Linked DNA regions of Homo sapiens: region 2 is linked to region 1. The links come from fine-mapping of genetic effects on gene expression. A gene starts in region 1. The other region holds a variant in brackets. All regions are shown on one strand. Distances are from middle to middle.

What was found. PIP is the estimated chance that this variant, and not a neighbour inherited with it, causes the effect. A credible set is the group of variants that fine-mapping cannot tell apart.
Region 2: its variant is the best candidate, but not a certain one, in a credible set for the expression of SPTBN5 in putamen (GTEx, PIP 0.56).

Annotation. Positions count from the first base shown.
Region 1 is chr15:41,890,656-41,899,331 of GRCh38, forward strand. It overlaps SPTBN5 (spectrin beta, non-erythrocytic 5), which reads right to left and starts at 3,398. Exons shown (of 68, transcript NM_016642.4): 1 at 3,244-3,398; 2 at 2,627-2,891; 3 at 2,239-2,406. The coding sequence starts at 2,842. EHD4 (EH domain containing 4) reads right to left here. Exons shown (of 6, transcript NM_139265.4): 6 at 5,278-8,676. It overlaps LOC105370792 (a long non-coding RNA gene), which reads left to right and starts at 2,122. Exons shown (of 4, transcript NR_135681.1): 1 at 2,122-2,423; 2 at 4,572-4,681; 3 at 4,925-6,866; 4 at 7,512-8,160. RefSeq lists enhancers at 114-989, 2,183-2,242.
Region 2 is chr15:41,946,682-41,955,357 of GRCh38, forward strand. EHD4 (EH domain containing 4) reads right to left here. Exons shown (of 6, transcript NM_139265.4): 2 at 7,083-7,259. LOC124903477 (a long non-coding RNA gene) reads left to right here. Exons shown (of 2, transcript XR_007064603.1): 2 at 8,573-8,676. Among named protein-coding and RNA genes, the nearest start is that of EHD4, 22 kb to the right of the region's middle. The variant G/A (reference allele first, on the strand shown) is at 4,922.

The DNA.
Region 1 (8,676 bases):
CCCTCTTCTTCTGTTCCGGCTCCAACAGGGCCAGCTATAAATCCAGACTCCCAGGCTCCACCCAGTCAGACTGTCTTGGGCCAGAGCCTGGGAATTTGCACTTGAACAACACCTTGGGTGGCTCTTAGGTACACCAAAGTTGAGACTCCTCTGCCCTACATCCTGCCATTTGGACAGGGAGGATGGGTGAGTCAAGGGGAGAAGCCCTGCAGGATCTGGCCCCCAGCCCCCTGTGGCTCCATCTTCCACCCTGTGGAATCACATAGCTCCAAGGCCCATGGGATTCTTATAGTTCCATGGGATTCTAAGCACAGGACTTCAGGCCTTTGCAGGGCCGTGCCTGCTGTCTGAAAGTATTCTCCCAGGTATCTGCATGGCTATTCACCTCCCTGCCTTTAACTCTTCACTCAGATGTTGCCTAGCCTGACCACTTTATTTAACACAGAAACTTAAGGACTATTTCTCCCACCCAAATACACACTCTCGATCCCCTTGCCCTGCTCAAGTGAGGATCTTGGCTTTGTTTTCTGGTGTATCCTAGGGGAGTGGCACACAGCAGGCAATCGATCAGTAAGTACTGAATGGAGAAAGAAAAGGAGTGAGACTTTCCATAAGACCTGAAGGGCAACTGGCTTCAGCCGGCCACTACTAGCCCTGTGGGAGGAGCTGCAATCCTGGGTGTCCCCCTAGGTAAACTTTGGTATATCTGGCTGGCCTCTAAAGGATCCCACCCATGCTCCTGGGGTGGATTCCACCTGCCATGTCAATCACCTTGGCTTAGAGTTGGAGCCTCTGGTGAGTGGGGTGTTTGTCTGCTCCTCCCAGCTCCTGAGAGCCTATCCTCCTGACTTCCTATTGAGCGATGTCACGCTGGTGGCTTAAACTCACCGTGATGGGGGGTATTAACGCCATAGGATCAGCGAATACAGCACACTGGAGTTTTTATTTCCCCCAGAGAATCATTTGTTAAACGTTTACCAGCACACCGCTGATCTGGGTTCAATGAATCTGTCTCCCTTTGAAGCCAGGTGCCTTGAGGTGGGGGTCTGGGCTTTGCTTAGTGGAGCCCAGCGCCTGCATAGAATGCCCAGGGCATGGGAGCATCTCCATAAGCGAATGCATCCCTCATTCTGCCACACATTCCCTGTGTGTTTGCGGCAACTCCGTCATCCTTTCTAGACCACAGTTGCCTCCTATGTGTATGGAGACAAGGATGTCACCCTCACAGGTATCAGTGACATGCTGTATATTAAAGCTTGGGGAGAGCTGCAACACCTCTGACAAAGGCTGTGGGGCTTACACCCTTCCCCAGTTCCTGGAGGGGAGATGACTGGCTCACAGGGTCATTGTCCCTGGATCAACTAGGGCCCAGCATTCTGCAGCTGGCAGCGTTCTGCTCTTGCACCTGCTCAGGACAGCAGTCACTCCCATTCCCTTTGCTTGGGCTTCTCCCCTCCCTGGCTTTCCTCCAACACACCCCAGGAGGCTGGATGTAAGCTCCACTCCAGGATATAGTGATAGGCACGCACAGTCAGGCTCCATCCAGCCAGGCCCAGCTCAGTGACTTCACAGCCTCCAGGGACAGCCACCTCCAGGAGCCCTTGGCCTTCACAGTTCCCGGTTTCCAATGATCCCTTTGCCCCACCCCACCCCTGCACCAGCCCCTCACCCTGGCCATGAGGGTCCCTCTGTCCCTGGAGCTCCGGCCTCCTTTTAGTGCCCATCTCCTTAGCCTGTCCCTTTCTTTCAGGTGACTCTGCCTCCCCCCATTTGCTGAGGCCTCCTCCCTCCTTCTCCAAGACAGGCCCTGCTCCTCTTCCCCACCTGCCGTCTTAGTCCCACATCTGGGCTCTGTTGGCTGGTTAACCATCGATCTTGCCTGGTAAATAATTCAGGGCCTCTGTTTCCTCATCTGTGAAATGAAAAGCCTAAGAGAACGCTAAGATTCTTTTGGCCTAGAATCCTGTGAGTCTCTCTTATGACAGACAGTGACATTTTCCACCCCAGTAGGGACCTGGATTGCTACTGCCATGGCCAGCTGGGTGCTCTCCAAGTCAGGGGTGCTGTGCGAGGAGGGCGTGGCTTCTGCTCCTCTGTGTCCCAGCCACTCCTCCTGTACTCAGGCCCCAGCTCCTCTGTTCTGCCCAGTGGCCTGGCGCAGGAAAGGTGACCCAGTAGTTCAGCCTGTCCCAGCTGCCTGCCCCAGCACCATCCCAGACCCCTTTCCCTGGGGCCCACCTTGGCCCTGAGGAAGGCCAGAGCTCGGCTGCTGTTCTCCAGGAAGTGCACACGCAGGCGGCCCCGGCTCGGGGGTGGCAGGGCCTCCCCTGAGATGAGCTCCAGCAGCCGCAGGAGGTGGATGCCGTCAGCCAGCTCTGTGTACAGGTTCCGGATCTTGATGCCCGCCTGGGGAGGGGACAGGGGTAAGTATGGGGTCAGCCCAGCCTCACCTGTCCTCCCATCCTGGGACCTGAGAGGTACGACCCAGAGCAGCTGCTTTGGAAGAAGGAGCTCTGGCCTCAGCTTGGCCTCAGGCAGATGACCCCACAGCTCACCCCGGAGGCCCACTGGCCAGAGCTGGGGGCCTGGTATGGGTGGGCTGTGGGTCACAGCTGGCTATACTCACCTGGCCGCACTGGAAGACGTTATTGATCCACTTGGTGAAAGTCTTCTCCTGCATCTGCATGTGCCGGGCCTGTAGCTTGCGAATGTGGCCCGTCTCGTACTGAGAGTCCATGGTGAGACTTGGACTGGGCGGGACCCGGAGTTCTGTGCTGGGCCTCCTGCTGCGGTGCCCTGCAGCCCCGAGGAGCTCCCGGGGACTGTGGGGCTGACCAGCCATCAGCCCTGCAGACTTTGGGGATGAGGAGCTGCTGGATGGCTCCCTAAACCTGGAGGGCATGCAGATTAGGGGATGATGTGAATGGAGATGGCCCCTCTACCAGGGGCCTGGGGTCCCGCCTTGCCAGACTGTCCTCACATTTCATGGGGGTTGCAGCTTGGAGCCCAGCCAGGTAAGGGCCAGTGCTTCTGGTCCCCTGTGCTTGAATGGCCCAGGGCCCCCTTTGCCCCACCCCACCTTCCAGATTCTTCTTCTCAGAGCCCCTGCTGCCAGGTCCCTCCACCACAGTGACTGGGACAGGTGGAAGGAAGACAGGAAACTGCTTACCTTGGTGATGCCTGGGTCCCACAGAGACGGCTCTGCTGGACGGATGGAGATGGTAGATAGCAGGGGCTGCTTACCTTGGTGATGCCTGGGTTCCACAGAGGCGGCCCAGCTGGACGGATGGAGATGGCAGATAGCAGGGGCTGTGGAGGGAGGGAGAGGGACATCAGGAGAGGCCAAGGCTGGAGCAGGGCTGCACCACAGCCCTCCCCTTGAGCCAGCGTGCTGGGGTGACGGCACACAGGCGGCATTGTCCTCCCACCTGCCACAGGGCGTGGCCCAGACAGGGAGGGGGTGGTTCAGGAATGCTCCAGGGCCATTGCCAGATGATGTCCTCCTTCATCATCCTCCCTTCCCCGCCAGCAACTTCTCCAACTCCAGGTGGGGGTCCTGGCTCCCAGGACGCAGAGGCCCATGGAGCGGCCCTGCCACCGCATGGGGTGCTGCAGTCTGCGTAGGAGGTACCAAAGGGCAGAGCCTCTGTGGGAAGCCTGTGGACGCACTTCCCAATCTGAGACTGCCCTCTGTACCCTCTTGGGGCCTCTCTGTGAGCACCCAGGGCGAGGGGATGAGGGAGCGTCCTGGGCCGTGGTCTTCTCATTCACCCCCAGGGAACAGCCCATAGACTGAGGGCCTCACAGACCCTGGGCTTGGCTTTCCAGGCCCTGCCAGAGTGCAGCCTGCCTAGCCCGGGGCTGAAGGGTAGGCTCCCTGGAGGAAGGGGTGACCTGGAACTGCGAGGGCTGTGGAGTCTCCTCCAAAATTAGAGACACGGTGTTAACTCTGGGCTCCACAGAGCTGGCCGTGGCCCGGGGCTCGGAGGCAGGGGTGCAGAGGGAGCTGGTGGGCGCCCATCCCTTCCTCCCCGAGCAGCCGTGGACTACATGCCAGAGTGAAGGCGAGTTCTAATTCTGGGGGTCTCACCCGCCTCTGGCTAAACTCAGGGTAGCAGTGTGGGCTGGGGTGTGTGTGTGTGGGTGTCTTCCAGCGGCCCTGGAGCCTCTGAAGCGACAGCCCGCTCCTCAGGGAGGCGCTCCTGGCAGCCACAGCCCACAGCAGGACAGCCGCTCAGCGCGCCCTTGAGAGCTGGGCTAGGGATGAGTCACACTTGAACCGCCTGGGCCCACTGCAGGCAGTCAGGGGTGACGCTGAGAGGTGCCGTGGTCTCGGGTGGGGTGCGGCTTCCTGCGTCTGAGAGACGCTTCCTCTCCTGCTGTCCTCTCCCTGCCAGGCCCCTTCTGCAGCGGCTGGCTTCCAGACACCCTGCGTCCCTCCCTTGCTCGCAGCAGTTGCTGTGGCGGTCCTCCCGTGCACCCCCCCTTCTGCCCTCACTGCCCCTGGGGGTCCTCATCACGGACCCCCTAACTCGGCATCCTGGACACCACCACCCCGCACCTTTCCACAGTGCAGCTCTGCTCGTGCCTGTGAAGCCTCCCACAGCCTGGGAAGGAAAATCCAGACTTGCCAGACCTTGCCTCAGCCAGGCCTTGGAAGCCTGCCAGCTTACCTAACCAGGCTAGTCTGCCCCCCTCACTCTGGGTGCTCTCCATGGGCCACTCACCATTTCCTGAGCAGGACCAGAGCTCTCCTGCCCCAAGGCTGGGCTTCAGCTGCTCTTTCAGCTTTGAACGTCCTTTCCCATTCTCCATCATCCACATTCACCTATCCTGCCTGCCCCAGTTAAAATCCTGTTTCTTCTAGGAAGTCCCTCATCCCACCCGCTTACCCCAGGGAGACTGAGCTTGTTCCTTCTCCTAGTAAGACCCTCAGCCCATGGAGTCCTGTGTGATGTTGTGAGCGTGGGAGGACAGACTGAACTGCTCGGCCCGTGGAGTCCTGTGTGATGTTGTGAGCGGGGAGGACAGACTGAACTGCGTGGTGCTTCGCACATAGACCTCAACAGGGATTGGCATTTTGAAGCTGTTGGCGGGGGCTGTGGACTGCTTTTCTTCCTTTCTAGCTCAACGGCAGCTAAAGCCACTGCATACAATGCAAGGACTGGCTCCTGTTTGGCCACGACTGATTGCAGCCCCTGGTGAAATGAGAACCCTGTGGGTCGGAACAAAGTTTGGATTATTTATGTTGCAAGTAACTAAAATCTCAAGTGAAACTGGTTTAAACATTATATTTTTATTATTTATTTATTTATATTTAATTCTTTTTTAGAGACAGGGTCTTCTTAGGTTGCCCAGGCTGGTCTTGAACTCCTGGCCTCAACGATCTTCCCACTTCAGCCTCCTGCATTGCTGGGATTATAGGTGTGAGCCACCATGCCTGGCTTACACAGTATAAAGGGAATGCATTGGCCCACACAGTGGAAAAAAATATCTAGTAGGAATAGGAAGGACTTCAGGTGAGGTTTGATCCAGCAGCTCAAATGTTGTCACCACAGGCCTGGATTCCTCTGGCCTTTCTCAAGGTCTCTTTCATTTTCATGCTCCACAAGATGGCTTCTGCCAGGCTGACCTCCCTCCCCTGACCCCAGCAGCTCTGGACACCCCTCTCAGTGCCATTTATATTGTTGCATCAATAGGCTCATTTCTATATACTGCAAGGTTCAGAGAAGACAGAGTATCTCTCTCAAGAGTTCTAACATAAGTCTGGGGGTCCTGGCTCTCATAGGCTTGAACAGGGCCACATGTCCATTCCTGAGCCAATATTTGTGACCAAGGGGATGTGGTCAATCTCATCCAAACCTCACTTGAAGTGAGGGTGGGAGGAGGAGTGCTCTGCAAGGAGACTGTAGGTCTGGACCACCAAAAAGGTAGATGGGTTGGTGGGAAAAGCCAGATGCCTACTATGGTAGTGGGCGGGGGGAGGGCACACTGGCAAGGTACAGCAAGAGGCAGGGGCAGTGCTGGACAGGCAGGGGCTCCTCCCTAGCACGACTGGAGAAAGGACTCCTGTGAAGCGGTCACCTCCATGAGTCCCTCCTGTCCTGGCTTCCAACCACTCTGAAGTGGGGCTTTTGTCCACAGACCTGGCCTCTGCTGCCTACCCTCTTCTGTCCCCACCTGATGGGGCCGCTTTCCTTCTGAAGCGGCTGCATTTTGGGTTTCTCTCCACAGGAAGAGTTGGGGCTCACAGGCACACCCTCTCCCTAACTCTTCTCCCCCGGTTCAACCTGGATCCAGGGATCCACACTCTGCTCCGAGAGGCCAGCACGCAGCCACTGGAAAATGAGCCAGTGGGAGAGGGCAGCTCCATGTTTATTGATCAGCAGACTATGTCTTTTTGTTTGAAACTTCTAAATAAGATTACAAAAAGAAAAAAAATAGAAGCATTGCGTATTAACTGCATTGGTTAACCAACATTGGAACCCAATACTCTTGTATTAGGCCCGCATTTACCTGAGTAAACTCAGTGGTTTTCTGTCCTAAGCATGCTTGCCTGCTACATCCCATGGAGAAAATAAACAGTGAAACACTTTCCTCATCTTCAAGGCAATTGTCTCAGGCATCCTCCAGGCATCATGAAGGAGGGTGAGCGAGGGTGCGAGGTGGAAAGGTCCAGGCCGCGGCTGTGACTCCCGCGGGTGAACCACAGCTCCACAGCCCCAAATCCAAAGATGCTCTTGCTGCAGCACGACAAGTGTTCAAAAGAGAACCAGGCCCAGCCCGGAGAAAGGAAAGCCAAAAGCCAACTGAATGAATGACCCTCCCCCAGAAGAGCAACCCTGCCCCCAGGCCATCCAAGTGCGGTGAGTTGAGAAATGAATTGACAGACGCTGCAGGGCTGGAGCAGGAGGCGGAAGCAGGTTGGAAGGCTGTTGTGTGCCACCCCTCCCTGGGAGCTGGGGAGATTCCCAAGTCTTAGTGCAGTGTTTCTCTACAAACGGGGTCAGGAGACCCTCACTGGCAGGCTGACAACTTGGAAGCAGACTGTGGGAGCAATAGGCTGGAGTTTTCATTTTCCCTTTAAACTCAAGACCGGAAGGTTTGTGTTATGCGATACCATATGCTGTGTAGAAAACAGGGCCTCAGCTTCTTAGATGTTGTAGTTCTAGAGTTTAGGTACTTCCACCCTCTCTCCTATACATAAACACTCTGTGGAAGAGGTTCTTTGAAAATTGGGGTGGTGCAGGAAGGGCAACGGTGATGGTGAGCAGGCCCCAGGGTCGGCCCTGCCGCCCTGCCGTGTGGGGTAGGGAGACAGCTGGTGGTGTGGACACATTCACAGAACTTTGTACTGGTCCTGGGAAGATACAAGTCCTCACTTGGTCGCCATCCCTCATATTTTCTAGTGTTTTCTTTTCCAGTCAACTTTTCTTGATGAATGACTGCATGTAAGAGGATATTAAGAAAAGTGGCCAAATGATTTCCTTTTTTTTTCCTTTCTCTCCAAGAACATTACCAGGTGCCAGCAGGGAAAGGACTCCGCTGCCTGACGCCTCTCCCACCTGAGAGCGCAGAGGTAGGGAGATCACAGTGCCTGAGAGGTTTTCCTCCACGGAGAAATCAGAGACCTCAACCTGCTGCCCTCTAAAGCAGCTTTCTGTATCCAGACAAAACTTACATATGTACACGTTGTTTTAAAACGACATACTCATGTGACACACATGTATATAAATTCATGTTTATATATGACAATTGAGGAGAGTTAAAGAACAAGATAATTCTGGATGGAAAAATCAGTTTGCCTGGGCATCTGTAAACCTTTGGGCAAGTGAATTCCCTCTTCTCTCTCAGTTCACCCTTTGGTGACCTCCACCGTGGCTGCAGACTTCAGGTGGTCCTCACGCATTCACAGAACTGTCTGCTTAGGTTACAGCACTTTGGGAGGCCGAGGTGGGTAGATCACGAGGTCAGGAGATCGAGACCATATTGACCAACATGGTAAAACCCCATCTCTACTAAAATACAAAAATTAGCCGGGCGTGGTGGCGGGTGCCTGTAGTCCCAGCTACTTGGGAGGCTGAGGCAGGGGAATCACTTGAACCTGGGAGGCGGAGGTTGCAGTGAACTGAGATTGCGCCACTGCACTCCAGCCTGGGTGACAGAGACTTCCTCTCAAAATAAAAATAAAAATAATAAAATAATAAATGGTTCTTTTCTATGCGTCTAATGAATTTAAGTGCTTGTTAAGACTAAAAACCATGTTATGCATTTCCTGCTCTTAAAACTAAATTATGTAGAAAGTAAGCTAGGGAGTGTAAGGGTAGGCATCTGGATATAAATGCTTCTCCCAAATCAAGATTTTCTCTTCAATCTGTGCCTTTGACCCTGTCACCAAAGGCAGGTGACAGAAAAAAAAAATTATGTGCCTTTTGGAAGACTCAGTGGGACGGTTCTGATTTCATTCACTTCTGGTGCCAGCAGGCCCCCATACCATGTGGCCATTGCTGTTTCGTGTCTCTTCCTGCATAAATAATGCAGAGAGGCCATGCAGGTATGCAATTTTCTGGAGATGAGGCAGGGAGATTTGCAAGGAAAAGTCACCTACCTCCCCAAGCTGGTGCCCACAGAGGGGGAGGCACCTCCACCTGACGCAGGTGTCTGAGCAGCAGTCCA
Region 2 (8,676 bases), 56 kb after region 1:
TGCCAGTGCACTACAGCCTGTGCAACAGAGTGAGACCCTGTCTCAGATAAATACATACATACATACATATCTACAGAAGGAGGGGGCAAGGAGATTACTTAAAATTTCCCCCAAACACTAAAATTCCAATTAAATGATCAGCATTTTAAAAACTAGACTTTTAGAAGAACCAGACAGTACCTTAATACTGATTTTGATTTCTCAACAAAACAGTAATATCTGTAGCAGTTATAATAATAATAAAATAGCACAAACATTTCCTCACCTCTTACTGGGTGTCAGGCACAGTTTGAAGTACTTTCCATGCACATTAACTCCAGCCTTACTGCAGCCTTACAGGTAGGGCTGTGAGCCTCTGCATTTAGAGGAGGAGACTGGGCACAGAGCAGACACATGCCATAACATGCTGAGAAGTGATGGAGCTGGGACATGAACTTGGCAGTGCTGACTGCAGAGCCCAGGTTCTTCACTCCTGGGCTACTATCACCATGGCACACACTGGAACCACTGCTGTGTGGCATATCATGTGCAGGGCAACATCCTAAAACAAAGGGGTGACGTGCCACAGCCCTGGAACTTGCCCCTAAGAGGCTTCCTTGTGTGGTTTGCTCTCTACCTAGTGGTGTGGAGTGTCTGTCAGGGTGGGGAACAGGAGGTAGGAGATTTAGGCTCCAGACGTCTCCCTTACTCATTCTGAGACCTTGACCTTGCACAGGTCTCTAAACCTCTCTGAGCAATTCTACCAGGCCTGCGGACTTCCAGGTTTGCCATTAGGTTCAAATAAACCTAAGCTTACAGCGGAGAGAGTATAGAATTGTTTCAAAGTACTTCTTTTCACCCCAGCCCACTTTATTGATGAGGGTAAAACCAGAGAGATAATACAACTTCCTAAATTTGCACAGTAAATAGAACACAACCCACAAAAAAGACTTTGACAACTGAACTGTAATAATTCTTATTATATGGTCCTACCACAAATGGCTAATCTTATCTTCCAGTGCCTAGGAAGAACTAGGAACTGAATTTCACATCCAGATTACAGCAAAGCCCCTGGTTGCCCTATTAGATTGAAACTAATTACCACTTTTAAAGGTTAAAGATTATTTAAGACTGCCAATTTCATATGGTTCAACCTAAATATGTACTTTTATAAATCCCCTCCTGACTGCCACAGGGGAAAGCCCAGTGCAATGGCCCAGCCAGGAAGGTCTGCCTGACCCCAGGGAGAAAGGCATTTCTGGAATGTCAGGACCAGAAATGTACAGGCAGCTGCTAGTCAAGAACAATGGTTTAGGCCAGGCGCGGTGGCTCACGCCTGTAATCCCAGCACTTTGGGAGGCCAAGGCAGGTGGATCACGAGGTCAGGAGTTCAAATCAGCCTGGCCAACACAGTGAAACCCTGTCTGTACTAAAAATACAAAAATTAGCCGGGTGTGGTGGTGAGCACCTGTAATCACAGCTACTCGGGAGGCTGAGGCAGAGAATTGCTTGAACCCGGGAGGCAGAGTTTGCAGTGAGCCAAGATTGCGCCACTGCACTCCAGCATAGGTGATGGAGCAAGACTCCGCCTCCAAAAAAAAAACCACGATGGTTTAGTGACCAGGGAACTACCACCCAGGGAACCACCACAAATCTTTTTTATTATTGTTATTTTTTTAGGGACAAGGTCTCTCGCTATGTTGCCCAGGTTGGTCTCAAACTCCTGAGCTCAAGTGATCGGCCTGCCTCGGCCTCCCAAAGTGCTGGGATTATAGGTGTGAGCCACCGTGGCTGGCCAACAAATCTTGAGGTTAAAGAATAATGGGGAAAGCTTCAGCAAGTTTATTATAGATAAATGAACCACAATACACATGCACAAGACAACCCAGTTATTCCCTCAGATTAAAAAAAAATTATTTTGCTGGTGAATCAAGAGTCATTCTTGGCAAAAGCCTGTTTTCCTTAATTTCTGCAGCTAAATTGGCTGGGGGAAGCCGCACGTGCTTGGACTGATGCTGTGAACTTTAGTAAGTCAGTTTTTAAAAATTCCCAGTGGTACACAGTGACTATCAAATATTCAAAACTTGGCTAGGCACAGTGTCTCATGCCTGTAATCCCAGCACTCTGGGAGGCCAAGGCGGGTAGACTGCTTGGGCCCAGGAGTTCAAGACCAGCCTGGCCAATATGGCAAAACCCTGTCTTTACAAAAAATACAAAAATTAGCTGGGCATGGTGACACACGCCTGTCGTCCCAGCAATCGGGAAGCTGAGGTGGGAGGATTGCTGGAGCAGAAGTTGAGGCTGCAGTGAGCTGTGATCGTGCCTCCGCGCTCCAGCCTGGGCAACAGAGTGAGACTATATATATATATATATATATATATATATATATATACACACATACACACACACATACATATACATAAATTTGGCCAGGCATGGTGGCTCATGCCTGTAATCCCAGCACTTTGGGAGGCCGAGGCAGGTGGATCACCTGAGGTCAGGAATTCAAGACCAGCCTCGCCAACATGGTGAAACCTCATCTCTACTAAAAATACAAAAAGTAGCTGGGCATGGAGGTGGGCACCTGTAATCCCAGCTACTCGGGAGGCTGAGAGAGGAGAATCACTTCAACCCGGGAGGCAGAGGTTGCAGTGAGCCGAGATTGCGCAGCTGCACTCCAGCCTGGGTGACAGAGCAAGACTCCATCTCAAAAAAATAATAATAATAAAATAAAATCAAAACTCAAAAGCTAAACTGAGTGAAGCCTCGCTTAATTACAAATACAGAAGTAACAAATGGAGTAGAAGGTCAATAATACACCTGCGTATTTTATGATGGGGGAATCACCATTCAAGCATAACACAGTGGTTGTTTATCATCACCATCATCAGGCCCAGCTAAAATGACTGAGCCCTGGAAGGGCTGTTCACATTCCTTCAGCTCAAAGGGAAGTTTCAAAATTTCAATTCCCAGGGCCAGTGATTCAAGTTATTTTTTAGAAAGAAACAGAGGCAATGAGGAAGTACATGAGATTAAGAATTTCTTCTGTGGAAGATAACAATTTAAAATAATACTAGATCCTAGACAAAAAATGTCTACAGCTATCTGAATTTGAAAATATACACATTACCATTTTTTAGAAAAGGAGACTGAGGAATAACATAACATCTTATTCAAAAGCAGACTGCAAGGGGAAATGTCAGACCCCAATGCCTGGCACTTCCCTGGCGTCTCAGAGGATCCAATGCTCTGGGTGCCCTTGGCTGTCTCCTCCTCTGTGAGGGGCAACTGCCTCCTGATAGCAACCTCTGGAATGTCAACAAGCACCTCCCCAGAGCTGCTCCCAGATGGGCCACTGAGGAATTCGTCGTGAGCACAGCAGTCTGCTAGAGTTTCAGAATGTCTCACTAAAGCCATTTCCATAGACCTCTGTGTGTTCTAAACTCCTTTTATTGTTCAAGTATGGAATTTCTCTAATATAAACCTTTTTAGGAATTTATCTTCATTTCTCAGAAATGCACCATAGACCCCTTGTCGCTCCTTAGAAGCCAGCCTGGGAGGCTGTGACTCGGGCTTTGCTGGTTTGCTTAATGGTGGAGGGTGTTGTCCCCCTCCAGGTATCACCTGGTACTTAACTCTTTTAAAGATGCCCCTGGGGGCAGATGCCCAAGCCAGCACTCCTTAAGGAGAAGGCCAGGTAATAACGATCTGTCACAGGGAGATTCTGGTGTGGCTGCTTGGGAGAGAAAGTTCTCCGCAGAAAACAAGCAATTTTCTTTACTAGGTGTTACATTTTGACCTAGTTCCCAGAGAAGTATGCTATGTGAAAAGAGGTTTGCCTCTAGTACTAACCCTGTGCTGTTCCCAGACGGAAGCTATAATTATGTACACATATTTGAACGCCCTAACTAATTGACTCTTTCTTAAATAACTGCTGTGTGATGCAGTGGCACTGTCCTGTGGATACTACTTAATGAGGCTGTTTACTCTTAAGTAGCTATGAGTTTACATGAGGCATGTCCCTTACACGTGAGCCTGACACACACTTGGCTAGAAGGACAGAAACTCCTCTTGGCCGATGCTGAGCAGAGGCATAGGGTGTGGGACAGGGGAGAAGGGGAACACTGGATTCCAATCCCCTCTCTGCCTCTTCCTGATGGCCTCTCCCTGAGCAAGTCATGTCTTTGCTTTCGGCCTTCTCATTTGTAGATTGGCAACAGTATTGTCTGTGTTATCAACGCCAAAAGAATAATGTACATGAAATTACGTAAGTGATGACTTGGGACATAATCACCGTCATCTTCATCATCATTACTGGAGGGCTACATTAGGAACAGCCTTACTAACCCTAACCCTAACCCTAACCCTAACCCTAAGAGTTAAATAGGGGGCACTGGGCAGTGATTCCCAGTCCAAACATCATACTATTGGTCAGCTGGCCTGGGTTCCAGTCCCAGCACTGATCTCACTGGTGGAGTGACCCCCAGAAATTAAAGTAACCTCTTTATGCCTTGATTCCTCCCCCTCCATTGAGGATAACAGTAGCATCATGTCACAGGGGTTCTGTGAGGATTTAAAGCTAATACACAAGTCTAGAACAGAATCTGACACATAAATGCCATATAATTATTTGCTATTATTTTTCTATATGTTATTCTGAATTCAACTGACACTTGCTTTTATTATAAGGCATGGATTATTTTCAGCAAGTTTTAAATTCTGAGACAAGAGCTTTGCCATTCAAAATCGTTCCTAAAAATTTCTTTTCTGTACTCATCTGTCATGTGCTTGGGATTTGAGAAGAAAAAAACATTTTTTTTTTTTGTTAGGAAAGTAAATCATTTGCCAAAATAAAGCAAGCCAATAACCACTCTTCCTGGTTTCTCCCTTGTGAATTCAGACTTCACAAAGTGGGAATTTGAAAAAACTGGCAGCTTATTTC[G/A]TTAAGCCTTTGTTGGGCAAAAAGAGCCCCAGACAAAGGGCAGTGGCAATGAAACCAGAGGACCCCAGGGAAGCCTTCCACAGAGACAGATCCTGTGCCTTGAACTTTCTGGGGCCTCCTGTTCTGGTCTACTTCCCCTCCACCCTGGGCCACTCTGTCCTGAGAGATCTGGAGAGTTGACCCTCTGGGGTTCTCCCGCCCAGGGCTTAACCCCCTCTCCCACAATGAGACACTCTGGTGCCAACCAAGTCAGCTCTGGAGTTGAAGAGTAAACTCCTCCTAGAAAAGTCAGCCCTGCAGGTTGGAAAAAAATCACCTGGACAGTGTTCCTATCACCATCAGTAATAAGATGGAACTCCTCTGGGACTCCTTCCACATCACCTGCAGGTTTCTGTTCATCCCACTGCCAAGTTCCCTGGTTGCTTTCTTTGATTTGCAATAGGATCATCAAAAAGCCCCTAATGGAGAATTCAGCTCCCCGGAGAGTTCCATCTTCCACAGAAGGCACCTGCGGAGGGGCCTGGGTGGCCCTCAGCCGAGCCAGTGCACAGCATCCAGCACATCATTCATTCCCCAGGCCACATGAATGGTGCCCCTGGAGCTGCGCGATGAGGCGCTTCGGCCTTTGGGAGGACAGCAGCCGGCTGGGAGGATCCGTTCCTATTTTTAAAAACTTCTAGAAAGGAGATGTGGACTGTCAGCTCTAATGCTACTTCCTCTCCCTAAAGAGGCTCGGATGACCCTCCCTAGCTCTGTGCCTCCTACAACCCACTCCTCCAAATCAGCCACACGAAAGCTAGACCCAGGAAAGAGGGAAATAGAGGGGTGGGAGAGGGATGATAGGAAACAAGAAAAAAGCATTACACAAACGCAAGGGGTAGCAAATAGGAGGTGCAGGAGGGAGGAAGGAAGGCAGATCCAGTGGGAAAGGGCAGAGTTGTAGCCAGGGGTACCAGCTGGCCTGTCTTCCCCAGGCCAGCAGCCCTCAGTTCCACTGGGAACTCTAATGAAAGGTTATGGGAGGAGTACAAATAAAACACATCTCCAAGTGAGGCAGAACCTCAGTGACCCCACAACTTTACATCTATAAAATAGTGACCACGTAGGCTGGGTGTGGTGGCTCACATCTGTAATCCCAGCACTCTGGGAAGGCGAGGCGGGTGGATCACCTGAGGTCAGGAGTTTGAGACCAGCTTGGCCAACATGGTGAAACCCTGTCTGTACTAAAAATACGAAAATTAGCTGGGTGTGGTGGTGGGTGCCTGTAATCCCAGCTACTTGGGAGGCTGAGGCAGGAGAATTGCTTGAACCTGGGAGGCGGAGGTTGCAGTGAGCGGAGATCATGCCACTGCACTCCAGCCTGGGAGACAGAATGAGACTCTATCTTCCCCCCCGCAAAAAAAAAAAAAAAAAAAAAAACGACCACGTAAGAAAATCAGCTTTTCATGTTTTTCACTCTGTTTCCCTGGCCCTGCTCTGATGAATAAGGAAACAGCTCAAAGCTGGGAGTGAGAAGCAAAAGGGACAGCCAGGGAGGTGAGGGGTCCTGTTCTGGAGTCAGTGGGTAAAATCCGAGTGTCCGGTGAAGGTTAGGGGTCCTCTGGGCTAAGCTCTCTGACTGCAGAAGCCCAGCGCACCATGCCTGAGAGGTGTCTGTCTAACCAGTGCTTAACATTGCCAGTGACGAGGAGCTCACTGCCTCATGAGGCAGCCTAATCCATTTCTGTGCAGCTCAAATTATTAGAAATTTGTTCCTTATACTGTAAGCATTTTTATTTTTTAACTTTTAAAATTTTTTGCAGAGACAGGGTCTTACTTCGTTGTCCAAGCTGGTCTCAAACTCCTGGCTTCGAACAATCCTTTTGCCTCAGCCTCCCAAAGTGCTGGATTACAAGCACGAGCCACACACCTGGCCCTGTGCAGCCTTATAATGTCCAGTTCTGGGCCTTAGCTCTGCCCTCTCAAGTTACCCAGAATAGGCATAAATGATTATTTCCTATGATAGTCTTTCAAATATCTTAATATGATAAACATATTTTGTATGACTTCTAGAGCAGAGATTCTTTGTTCTTCTGTTTTTGAACCTTTATATGTAACTGGCAGTAATTCAAAGAAAAGGTTTAAACAGCCTGACCGAAGATGGCAGCTTGCTGGTCCTTACCGATTCAGGAAAGCGTTTCCAAAGCGACTGAGCTTTCTAAACGGCTTTTTGGGGTCCACGACTAAAGCATTCCCTGGGGTGCTGCCCTCAGTCTCTCCATACATCACGGCGATGAAGGAGTCTGTGGTGGGCTCCGGACCAATCCTCATGCCTGGGAAATCCTGCTCCAGTAGGTATCTGGGAGAGGGAAGAAGAAGAGAAAGCTTAGCATCTTATCACAAAGTAAGAGGCCAGAAAGCTGCCTGGGATTACCAATTTTTTTACATAATCATTTAAAAACGTAGAAACATAACCCCCAAGAAAAGCACGCAATCCTCCTCTGCATTTCTGTTGATGCAACAGACGCTACCCCAAGGGAAGTGTACCGTGCTGGCTCCTGGGCATCCTGGAAGCTCTGCTCAGGCTCAGCTCCCTTAGGGGAGCCTCCCTGACCTGCATGTGGGGACACCTCTTTTGTGGTCCCTGGGCACCCTGTGCCTGCTGCCAGCGTGGTGCTCAGCATGTGTACTACAATTACTTGTTTATGGGCCCTGCAAGGTGTCTGAGCTGATGAGGGCAGACTCATGTCCCAACCATGCCAGGAGGATGATCTTCGTCTTATAAGCCTTGAAGGGGCTCAAGGGAAAAAACCTGCACAGCCTTCTGCAGCTCCCCATTCCTGCAACTAACAATCTATTTGGTCCTAAACTACTTCTTTGTTTCTAAAAAGTTTTGACTGATTCTAATGTAAGCCCACAATCTGTGACTATTTCCAGGGAAAGAGAGAAAGTGCTGAATTCTATCAAATGCCAAATACAATTTTTCCATCTTTAAAAGAATGAGAAATTAAGCCACCATTTAGACCTATGTTTTCTATGTAAATAAAACTGAAAAAAAATTTTTTTTTTTGAGACTGGGTCTTGCTCTGTTGCCCAGGCTGGCTGGAGTGCAGTGGTGCAATCTCGGCTCACTGCTGCCTCGACCTCCTGGGCTCCAACAATCCTCCTGCCTCAGCCTCCCAAGTAGCTGGGACTACAGACACATGCCACCATGCCTAGCTAATTTTTTGTAGAAACAGGGTTTCACCATGTTGCCCAGGCTGGTCTTGAATGCCTGGGCTCAAGCTATCCCCTCACCTTGGCCTCCCAAAGTACTGGGATTACAGGCATGAGCCACCGCAACTGGCCTAAAACTGAAATTGTTTAGCAACCTTAACGGGCTATATTCTAAACCTTTAATTGATGTCATTGCTAGTTTTCACTTCATCCAAAGTTTCTACGTTTCTGTGAAGTTGTGGCACCCCAGAATAGATACACCATTAAAATATGTCTCCTAAATTTACAGTAAATCTGATGATATCTTTTATCTCTAAATTTAGAGAAAAAAATCTGCTAATAGCACACGGCATTTACTGAGTGCTTGCTATATTCCTGATATGGCGCTGAGCCTTCTATATTGTTTCACCTCATGCTCTGAGGTGGATGATGACATTACCCTCGTTTTATTTACAGGTGGGAAAACTGGGGCATCAGAGAGGCCAAGCGGCTTGCCCAAGGTCACACAGCGGATGTTCGAGTGGAAATGGAATGCAAGCATTCAGACTCCAGAACTTGCA